Homo sapiens: one gene and its partners. The protein of the gene in region 3 purifies or fractionates together with the protein of the main gene of each other region. This does not show direct contact. Each region holds a gene or a part of one and is shown on either strand. Other genes may lie near its edges. The genes, in order: ETFDH, DHODH and SLC25A16.

Region 1 (3,727 bases), on a different chromosome or scaffold from region 3:
GCACATGAAAAGGACATCCGTGTGTGTCTAGTGGAGAAAGCTGCCCAGATAGGAGCTCATACTCTCTCAGGGGCTTGCCTTGATCCAGGTGCTTTTAAAGAACTCTTCCCAGACTGGAAAGAGAAGGGGGTATGAAAAATTGTTTTTTATACAAAGTCTAATCTTTTGTAATTGTATTTCAGTAATTGTTCCCAAATTACTGGAATATAGGAAACCCTTTTCATGTAACTCTATCTTTTTTTTTTTTCTTTTTTTGAGATGGAGTTTCACTCTTGTTGCCCAGGCTGGAGTGCAATGGCGCGATCTTGGCTCACTGCAACCTCCACCTCCCAGGTTCAAGTGATTCTCCTGCCTCAGTCTCCCTAGTAGCTGGGTTTACAAGCACCTGCCAACACTCCCAGCTAATTTTTTGTATTTTTAGTAGAGACAGGGTTTCACTGTATTGGCCAGACTGGTCTCGAACTCCTGACCTCAGGCGATCCACCCACCTTGGCCTCCCAAAGCACTGGGATTACAGGCATGAGCCACCACGCCCAGCCCATGTAACTCTAAGGGAATAATTATATACTTTTTAAATTAAAAAAAAATTTATATCAGAATTGTAATTTATGATATTAACAAATATTTTTGTGTAATGCTTTCTACATGTATTTATGTAATGGGTATATGAGAAGATAACTTGAGAAGACCTTTGAATATTTCTTGGGAGGCATTTTGTATTTTGAGGGTATTTTTAAACTTGTTCTTTAAGTCTTTGTATGATTGTTCTTAATAAAGTAATAATTCCTGGGACAATGCAATATCTAAAGCCAAAGAGGATAACCTAATTTTCTGAAGAAACATATTAATATGGCTTCCCATAACCTAAGCAGAAAAACCACAGGTGTGATATACAGAGGACCAAGTCCAAGTTTTATTGTCTTAAATAAAATTTGTATGAATTTGGTTAAAATCTTAGATTGTCAATTTTTTCTTCTCTAAGATGGGTTATATTATACCTGTCCTACCTCCTAGATTAGATTATTCAGTGGTTGTGAATATACTTGCAAAGATCAAAAATTATATAAATATCTGTATTTTTTCCATATGGAATAAATTGAATTCCAAAAATTTCGTCTGTCTCTCCTTTCTGAAATATCAAGCTCCCTTAAACTAGAAATACTTTAATTAGGCCCAGTTGAATTTATCCTTTTGATATTATATCAGAAATGGATATTATTGAATTAACACTGACATAATATCAATTCTAATAGAAAATGTTTTTCATGTTAAAGCCCTTTATTGCTTTGGCACCTTTTTTTTGAGACAGGGTCTCACTCTGTCACCCAGGCTGGAGTACAGTGGCACAATCATGGCTCTCTGCAGCCTCAACCTCCGGGGCTCAAGTAATCCTCCCACCTCAGCCCCCTTAGTAGCTGGGATTACAGGCGTGCACCACCACACCCAGCTAATTTTTGTATTTTTTTAGTACAGACAGGATTTTTGCCATGTGGGCTCAAAACCACTAGCTTCGGCCTCCCAAATTGCTGGGACTACAGGCCTGTGAGCCACCACACAGACTTTGGTGCCTTTTAATATGTATAGCCAGCAGGTACAGTGTAACAACATGTTAATTCTCTTTATCCAAGAGGAAAATAAAACTTCTCTTACCTTTCACCAACCAGGAAGTTTCAACTTAAGAGCCAAGCAACTTGGCTAACCTCTCCACAGAGACAAAAAGACATGAGGGTCACGTTTCAAAGGTGTTTCCAAGACTCCCAAGAAATATATTCCTGGGATGCAAAACTGGCAAGAGGTTTATTTAGATTTTTAAAAGATTCCCAGCTGGCCGGGCGTGTAATCCCAACACTTTGGGAGGCCAAGGCGGATGGATGACTTGAGGTCAGGAGTTCGAGACCAGCCTGGCCAACATGGTAAAACCCCCTCTCTACTAAAAATACAAAAATTAGCCCAGCATGGTGGCAGGTGCCTATAAGCCCAGCCACTTGGGAGGCTGAGGCAGGAGAAACACTTGAACCCAGGAGGCAGAGGCTACAGTGAGCTGAGATTGCACCACTGCACTCCAGCCTGGGTGACAGAAAGAGACACTGTCTCAAAAAAAAAAAAAAAAAAGATTTCTGTACATCTCAGACAGAGAAAGGATTCACAGTGACAAGTTTTATAAAGGAAATGCCAAAAGAAAATTAGGGGGGAGTTCTTTTTTTGTCATCAGAGTACATTTTATAGTTTTTTTGTATTTATATTTACACTTGCAAATATAAACTAAAAACATTTCTTTTTCTTCTTTTATTTCTAGGCTCCACTTAACACTCCTGTAACAGAAGACAGATTTGGAATTTTAACAGAGAAATACAGAATTCCTGTGCCAATTCTTCCAGGTAAGGTATAGTGAATATGCATAGAACTATGGAATTCCACAGCTGGAAGGAACTACATTTCATCTGACGAAATTTCCTCCTTTTACAGACAAGAACTGAGACCCAGATATTTGAAGGACTTACTCAAAGCTATACAGCTAGCTGGTGGGAAAGCAGGACTAGAACTCAGTTCTTTTGTCTTCCAGTCTAGAAGAATTGAGATAGCCTTGTAAGCCAAGCAGGAATTTCTAACTTAGTGCTTTAATGTTGTTTGTAATGTAATAAATTAGAACTCTAGACCAAAATTGTAGAAAATAAGTTGAAAGTGTGACCATCAATGTAGCACTTATGTAGAAATACATATTGATTCGAAATTTTAAAGTATTTATGTTTTTGTAATGTCTTATCAATAAAAAGTCAGATTTATAAATTAAGCATATATTTATAGGGCTTCCAATGAATAATCATGGCAATTACATTGTACGCTTGGGACATTTAGTGAGCTGGATGGGCGAACAAGCAGAAGCCCTTGGTGTTGAAGTATACCCTGGTTATGCAGCTGCTGAGGTTTGTATAGTTTTGTTTTGTTTTAATATTTATAGGAACTCTCTTTTTTTAATAAGTGGAGAATTTTATAAAGTTGAAGAAATAAATATTTTTTAAAAGCCATGGGATTTTAGAATTATAAGATTAGAAGGAATCTTTAAAGTATCTAATCCAAAGAGTACTTGAATTCCTCATGTTGTACCCCCATCAAGTGATTATCCAACTTATGATTGATCACCATAAGGGATGAAAAATTGTAGATTGTTGGTAATCTCTTCCTTATTTTGAACAGAACTTACCTATGGTTTTATACTATCCAGAACAAATCTATGCCCTCTTCCAAGGACAACTTTCTAATTATAATTATTCCCTGCTCTCTCTTCCTCCCTATCTTTACTCTGGAATTTTTTTTTATTTCCCAGTATAGGGGTGGTATAGGAGTTAAGGGAAAGGTTTGTCTCTGCCCTCTGAAGGTTCACCAGAAATGAACTGACAATAGACAGAGTAATAGGAGAAGAAGCATAGAGATTTATTTAACATGCATAAGCACAAGAGAATGATGACCCGATAACCCAGTGAGGTCCAAATGCTTATCTACCTTTCAGCAGAAGGGAAGGGGAAATTGGGTGTTTAGCAATCTTGAAAGGAAGTGAATGATTTTTAGGGAAAATGAATGCACCCAAGACACAGAAATTAACTTGTAAATGATTCTCTTTGGAATTTGAATGAGCCTGAGAGGCAGGCATGATCTTATGAAAAAGTGTTTGTCTAGGTGTAGTTGCTTTTTTCTGTTTTCTTTTCTGCAATAGATATTAACAATAAGA
Region 2 (3,727 bases), on a different chromosome or scaffold from region 3:
GTGTGCATTTTACTTCCAGCACCTCTCCCTTTGGACCAGCTGCATTCCCAGCAGCCAGTAGCCACATGCGGCCAGCAGGCTTGTATTGGCTAGCACAGCCCCAGCCTTTAGCAAACAGGGAAATGTAATATTCAACATGCACAGCTGCTCTTAGTAAGAGAAATCCTTCTAGACTGTATAAAGCCCTTCCCTTTGTCATCCCTGGGCAATTTTTACTACAGCAAACCCAAAAGGTGAAGAAGTGCTTACTTTTTGGTAAGAGGATTTTGAAGAGCCTCCTTGGGGAGATTTCGATGGGCATCTTTGGGGCCACTGGTGGCCTCCTGGGAGACGGACCTGTAGGACATTTACTTGGCCGTGCTTCCTGCTTTCTTGTGCTTGTTTCAGGGAAATTCTCCAGCATTAGAGATCAAGTTATTGATCTTTCTGCTGCATTGCAGGTGGGGATCAATATCTTCAGAATTGGCCAGGCAAAATATATTTGCTTAACATTCAGCTGCTACAGATAACTGCAGGTGCTGGGATGATGGTACTTGGTGAATCCTATAGGTGAGCAGGGGTGTGAGATCCTGCTCTGAGCCCTGTGTGTGCGGCCTCCTGGTTGTGTGGCATGTGGTAAGTGTGTAGTAAACACTTAATGAATGGGTGAAGTTATGAAGTCATCAGATATGTGTGCCAGTGTGTCTGTTATTATGGATGCTTTTGGCTCTAACAAAGTGGCTTAAACAACAGGCACATTTGATATTATTTTCTTCTCATAACAGGTGCAATGGGCAGGTCCAGGGTTGGTTGAGCACCAGGGCAGTGTTGAGACTCTGGTCCAACTTCTCTGGGCGTTTTCTTTTTGCTTGTCAGAGAGCGACCTCGGCTGCAAGTATTATGTTCTTACACGGACGCCCAAGAGCAGAAAGGAAAAAGGGCAGGGATGTTCTCAGAGGCTCCCAGTAGGTCTCACTTGTGTCTCAGTGTCTACACTTGGCATACACTTACGCTTCCCTTGCCAGCAAGGCTGGGAAAGGAGTCATTAGCATTTTTACCCTGTATCAGGGCAGGTGGGTTTCACTGGCAAAGAGGAAGAGGAAGGGGACTGGCCACTAGGTCAAAACCCACAGTGGGGCTGGGGATACAGGGATGAAAGAGAGATGAGGCTCCTGCCTTCAGGGAGTGTCTAGTGACAGTGACAGAGGGATGAGAGAAGTATGAGATGTTGCTCACCCTCAAGAAGATTGTAACCTAGGGACCTTAAGCATATATGTATGTATCTATCCCAAGCCAGGAGAAAGGTGGGGCCAAAGCTCTGTATGAAGGCCAGGGGGATGAGGGATCCTTTGCAGCTGCGAGCTCTGTGCAGGAGGAGAGGGAGCGTTTGCTCTGAGCTAGGAAGAGAGGTGATTTTCAGACAGAAAGCCTAGAGAGATGGAGTGGCTGCAGGGGCTTCAGGAGGCTGTTTGGGAGCCCAGGCAGAAGGTGGCAAGTGAGTGTGCAATTCTCAGAGAGTGGCTGGGTAAGGAGTGGGGATCCAGCAGGTCTGGGGCAGCTGCTGCTGAGTCTGGGCTGTTTCCAGTGCTAGCTGGCTGAGCATTTGCAAATTTTAATCTTTCCCTGGGTATTGGATGGTGTTCTGGCAAGTTCTCTAGGAGTCCCAGTGGTGTTTAGACCCTGGAAGTGTAAGAACTGACTGTGATTTTTTTTTTTCTCTTGTTTGAAAAAGTCCTAAGTGTATGGGAAGTGGCTATGGTGCCGTCTCACTCTGCCCCTCCCGTGTGCTTGTGCTCTGCAGGTATGGATTTAACAGTCACGGGCTTTCAGTGGTGGAACACAGGTTACGGGCCAGACAGCAGAAGCAGGCCAAGCTCACAGAAGGTAAAGTGGGGTTGTGTCAGTGGGCCTTTCTTATTTATTAGGAGGAAACGTGGGAGAAATGCTGGGAACATTTCTAGTGAAATAAACATGATTGAGCAATAGCAAAAACCACTGAGGACCTCAGGACACCTCTCCTAGAGCGATTTTCCTGGTCCCACACAGCTTCCAAGAGTTTAACTGGATTTTGCAATTTAGCAAATACTCACTTTGCCTCTGCCTTGTTATGTAACCTGTTACCGTAACTAGGGAGGCCTGAAAGCAAGCGAAGCAAAGCGGCTGGGCAATGATCACACAGGCAATGAGGGCAGGAGCAGGACTTGAATGTCATCCTCCCGTGGCCCACTCTGTCCTCCCTTTTTTGTCATCCATTGTGTAAATAATGTTCATTAATTATAGAAGACTTAGTAAATACAGAGAAGCGTAAAGAAAGAATGTTCAAGAAACAGATACTCCTCCCTACTCAAGGCTAACTAATATTAGCATTTGGGAAAATATTCTTCATGAGTTGTTTTGGAAACTCATTTTTGGTTCGGGACAGTTCACACCTGTAATCTCAATACTTTGGGTGCCCAAGTTGGGAGGATCACTTGAACTCAGGAGTTTAAGACCAGCCTGGGCAACATGGTGAGATCCCATTTCTCTAAAAAAACCAAAAACAACATGCTTTTTTTTTTTTTTTTTTGAGACGGAGTCTCGCTCTGTCGCCCCAGGCTAGAGTGCAGTGGCGGGATCTCGGCTCACTGCAAGCTCTGCTTCCCGCGTTCTCACTATTCTCCTGCCTCAGCCTCCCGAGTAGCTGGGACTTCAGGCACCCGCCGCCACACCCAGCTAATTTCTTTTTGTATTTTTAGTAGAGACGGGGTTTCACTGTGTTAGCCAGGATGGTCTCGATTTCCTGACCTGGTGATCCGCCTGCCTCGGCCTCCCAAAGTGCTGGGATTACAGGCGTGAGCCACCGCGCCTGGCCACAACATGCATTTTTGAAGACGCCTCCGGCGATGCGGGTGTTCTCTGTGGCCTCTGCCTCACTTGCTCTCAGGATGCACTTAGTGGTCGCAGCCCTCTGTTGTCCTGACCCTAATGCCCCTGGGACCCTCTGGGATTGTGTGGGGTTGTGGCTCAGTAGCGACCATTTTCTTCTTTGGGTCCCTCTGAAACTCCTTCCAGGATGTCTTAGTCTCAGATAGTCCTGGTAGCAGGATGAAGAAACCAATGGATATGGGATTCATTTCAGGAAGTGAGGTGGAAAGGGCTGAGGCACTCAGCAGTGTCAGATTTGGGGAATAGGAAATTATCTTTTGGAAACCCCTGGGTTGGGTGGAACCAGACCCCGCTGTACTGCAGAGCCGCCCACCTGGGGAGCTTTGGAGGTCATCACAGGACTTGCATGGTTTGTGATGCTTGCCCGCCTTCGTGCTTGCTTTTTCTTCTCCTCGGTGTCTGCAGTGCAGTGTCCTGGCTTTATCTCCTGTTCTTCCTCACCCAGCCCTCCCTCCCTGTGGCCCTCCTGGTCTACGGAGTGAAGCGGAGCCTGCAGCAGTGCTCTGCACGGATGTGTCTGCCAGCAGCTTAGGGGCCTTCATGGCAGCTTGTTGTTAGCACCATGCCAAGGAACACGCGTTGACAAAAGCTTTGGTGCCCTCTGGGGACAGAGTAATCCAGCAATTTCTGTCTAACTCCCAAATCTTGTCAGTTTGGGCAGATGACTCCTAATCCGTTAGCTACATGAAAGTGATATTCTCCTTCAAGTCAGTTTACTTGTGAGGAAAAGAATTCAAGCTTACAGATGATCTTGGCTTGATGGGTGCTAGACTGGGAAGCTTGGAGACCTTATGATAAACCTTTTGTCTAATTGGATTCTTTG
Region 3 (3,500 bases):
CTCCTTTTATAAAAAGGTGAATAACAGGCCAGGCACAGTAGCTCGCACCTGTAATCCCAGCACTTTCGGAGGCTGAGGTAGAAAAATTACTTGAGACTAGGAGTTTGAGACCAGCCTGGGAAACACAGTGAGACCTCATCTCTACAAAAAATTTTTTAAAATCGGCTGGGCGCAGTGCTTCATGCCTGCAATCCCAGCACTTTGGCAGCTCGGGGCGGGCAGATCTCCTGAGGTCAGGAGCTCGACACCAGCCTGGCCAACATGGTGAAACCCCGTCTCTATCAAATATACAAAAAAATTAGCAAGGCATGGTGGCAGGCGCCTGTAGTCCCAGCTATTTGGGAGGTTAAGGCAGGAGAATCCCTTGAACCCAGGAGGCCGAGGTTGCAGTGAGCCGAGATCACACCATTGCACTCTAGCCTGGGCGACAAAGCGAGACTCCATCTCAAAGAAAAAAAAAAATTAGCAAGGCATGGTGGTGTGCCTCAGTACTCAGAGACTAAGGCTGGAGGATGACGTGAGCCAACAGTTGGAGGTCACGGAGAGCTATAATTGTGCGGCTTCGCTCCAGCCTAGATAACACAGCAACACCTGGTCTTTAAAAAACAACAAGTCCGGGCACGGTGGCTCACGCCTGTAATCCCAGCAATTTGGGAGGCCGAGGCAGGCAGATCACTTGAGGTCAGGAGTTTGAAACCAGCCTGGCCAATATGGTGAAACCCCATTTCTACTAAAAATAAAAAAATTAGCCGGGCATGGTGGCGGCTGCCTGTAATCCCAACTACTGGGGAGGCCGAGGAAGAAGAATCTCTTGAACCCAAAAGGTGGAGGTTGCAGTGAGCTGAGATCACACCATTGCACTCCAGCCTGGGTTACAGAGACTATGTCTTAAAAAAAGAAAAAAAAAGAAAACACAAATAAAATTTTAATTTTAAAAATCCATATTCTGAGATATCCAAAAATAAATTGTGGCTGGGAGCCGTGGCTCATGCCTGTAATCGCAGCACTTTGGGAGGCCGAGGCGGGCAGATCACGAGGTCAGGAATTCAAGACCAGCCTGGCCAACATGGTAAAATCCCATCTCTACTAAAAACACAAAAATTAGCTGGGCATGGTGGTGCGTGCATGTAATCCCAGCTGCTTGGGAGGCTGAGGCAGAAGAATTGCATGAACCCAGGAGGCAGAGGTAATAGTGAGCCGAGATCGCACCACTGCACTCCAGCCCGAGCAACAGAGCAGGTCTCGGTCTCAAAAAAACAAATAAAATAAATAAATAAATAAATAAATTAAATAAATAAATAAATAAAATGTATTTTTTACTCAGATATTATATCCACTATGTTTCCATATCAAAGCTCTCTTATCCGAACTAATGAAAATAATAGTTGGCCAGGTATGGTGACTCATACCTGTAATCCCAGCGCTTTGGGAGGCCGAGGTGGGCGGATCACCTGAGGTCGGGAGTTTGAGACCAGCCCGACCAACATGGAGAAACCCTGTCTCTACTAAAAATACAAAATTAGCTGGGTGTGATGACGTGTGCCTGTAATCCCAGCTACTTGGGAGGCTGAGGCAGGAGAATCACTTGAACTTGGGAGGCAGAGGTTGTGGTGAGCCGAGATCACACCATTGCACTCTAGCCTGGGCAACAAGAATGAAACTCCGTCTCAAAAAACAAAAAAAGGCTGGGCGCAGTGGCTCATGCCTGTAATCCCAGCACTTTGGGAGGCCGAGGTGGGTGGATCACGAGGTCAGGAGTTCAAGACCAGCCTGGCCAAGATGGTGAAACCTTGTCTCTACTAAAAATACAAAAATTAGCCAGGTGTGGTAGCGGACACCTGTAATCCCAGCTACTCGGGAGGCTGAGGCAGAGAATTGCCTGAACCCGGGAGGCAGAGGTCTCAGTGAGCTGAGATTGTGCCACTGCACTCCAGCCTGGGTGACAGAGTGAGACTCCATCTCAAAAAAAAAAAAAAAGTAAATCATAATCATAGCTATCCAAAATTATGGGTAAACTAAAAATAATATGCATTTGGATACATTTGGTTTCAGAATATTTTATATTATCTTCTCAGTTGTGTATGAATTAACTGTATAATGAATTATTTAGGCCAGGTGCAGTGGCTCTCGCCTGTATTCCCAGCACTTTGGGAGGCCGAGGTGGGCAGATCATCTGAGGTCAGGAGTTCGAGACCAGCCTAGCCAACATGGTGAAACCCCATCTCTTCTAAAAATACAAAAATTAGCCAGGTGTGGTGGCACATGCTTATAATCCCAGATACTTGGAAAGCTGGGGCAGGAGAATCGCTTGAACCCGGGAGGCATAGGTGGCAGTGAGCCGAGATCATGTCACTGCACTCCAGCCTGGGCGACAAGAACGAAACTCCGTCTCAAAAAAAAAGAGAGAAATTGTTTAGAATGTATTCAATAAGTACTTTTATATAATAGTATCTTTTTTTTTTTTTTTCCAGGGCTGGAGTGCAATGGTGCGATCTCGGCTCACTACAACCTTCACCTCCCAGGTTCAAGCGATTCTCCTGCCCCAGCCTCCCGAGTAGGTGGGATTACAGGAACCCACCACCTCGCCCAGCTAATTTTTTCTTTTTTTAGTCTTTAGTAGAGAGAGGGTTTCACCATGTTGGCCAGACTGTTCTTGAACTCCTGATCTCGTCATCCACCCGCCTCTACCTCCCAAAGTACTGGGATTACAGGCATGAGCCACCGCACCCAGCCTATTTAATAGTATCTTAACTTGCTTTCACACTACGATAGTCCCCCCTTATCTGCAATTTCACTTTCTGCAGTTTTAGTTACCACCAGTCATCCATGTTCAAAAAATATTAGATAGACAATCTGTAAATAAACAATTGACCCGGGCACAATGGCTCATGCCTATAATCCCAGCATTTTGGGAGGCCTAGGTGGGAGGATCACTTGAGGTCAGGATTTCAAGACCAGCCTGGCCAACTTGGTGAAACCCCGTCTCTACTAAAAATACAAAAATTAGGCCAGGCGCAGTGGCCCACACCTGTAATCCCAGCACTTTGGAAGTCCGAGGCAGGCAGATCACCTGAGGTCAGAAGTTCGAAACCAGCCTGACCAACATGGAGAAACACTATCTCTACTAAAAATACAAAAATTAGCTAGGCCTGGTGGCACATGCCTGTAATCCCAGCTACACGGGAGGCTGAGGCAGGAGAATTGCTTGAATCCAGGAGGCAGAGGTTGCAGTGATTCACAATTGCACCATTACACTCCAGCCTGGGCAACAAGAGCAAAACTCTGTCTCAAAAAAAAAAAAAAAAAAATACAAAAATTAGCCAGGCGAAGGGCCAGGCATGGTGCCTCACATCTGTAATCCCAGCATTTTGGGACGTTGAGGCGGGCAGATCGCAAGGTCAGGAGATCGAGACCATCCTGGCTAACATGGTGAAACCCCGTCTCCACTAAAACTACAAAAAATTAGCCGGCATGGTGGCACGTGCCTGCAGTCCCAGCTA

The links.
Region 1: the proteins of SLC25A16 (region 3) and ETFDH purify together in Homo sapiens (affinity purification with mass spectrometry; one large-scale study listed by BioGRID and IntAct). This does not show direct contact.
Region 2: the proteins of SLC25A16 (region 3) and DHODH purify together in Homo sapiens (affinity purification with mass spectrometry; one large-scale study listed by BioGRID and IntAct). This does not show direct contact.

What each region holds. Positions count from the first base shown.
Region 1 is NC_000004.12:158,682,296-158,686,022, forward strand, and holds part of ETFDH (electron transfer flavoprotein-ubiquinone oxidoreductase, mitochondrial isoform 1 precursor), read left to right. Parts: coding exon 1-129; intron 130-2,296; coding exon 2,297-2,378; intron 2,379-2,805; coding exon 2,806-2,924; intron 2,925-3,727. UniProt on the Homo sapiens protein: Accepts electrons from ETF and reduces ubiquinone.
Region 2 is NC_000016.10:72,015,244-72,018,970, forward strand, and holds part of DHODH (dihydroorotate dehydrogenase (quinone), mitochondrial), read left to right. Parts: intron 1-487; exon of another isoform or gene 488-610; coding exon of another isoform or gene 611-615; intron 616-1,780; coding exon 1,781-1,863; intron 1,864-3,727. UniProt on the Homo sapiens protein: Catalyzes the conversion of dihydroorotate to orotate with quinone as electron acceptor. Required for UMP biosynthesis via de novo pathway.
Region 3 is NC_000010.11:68,517,524-68,521,023, forward strand, and holds part of SLC25A16 (solute carrier family 25 member 16), read right to left. Parts: intron 696-3,500; exon of another isoform or gene 1-695. UniProt on the Homo sapiens protein: May be involved in the transport of coenzyme A in the mitochondrial matrix. Very little is known about the physiological function of this carrier.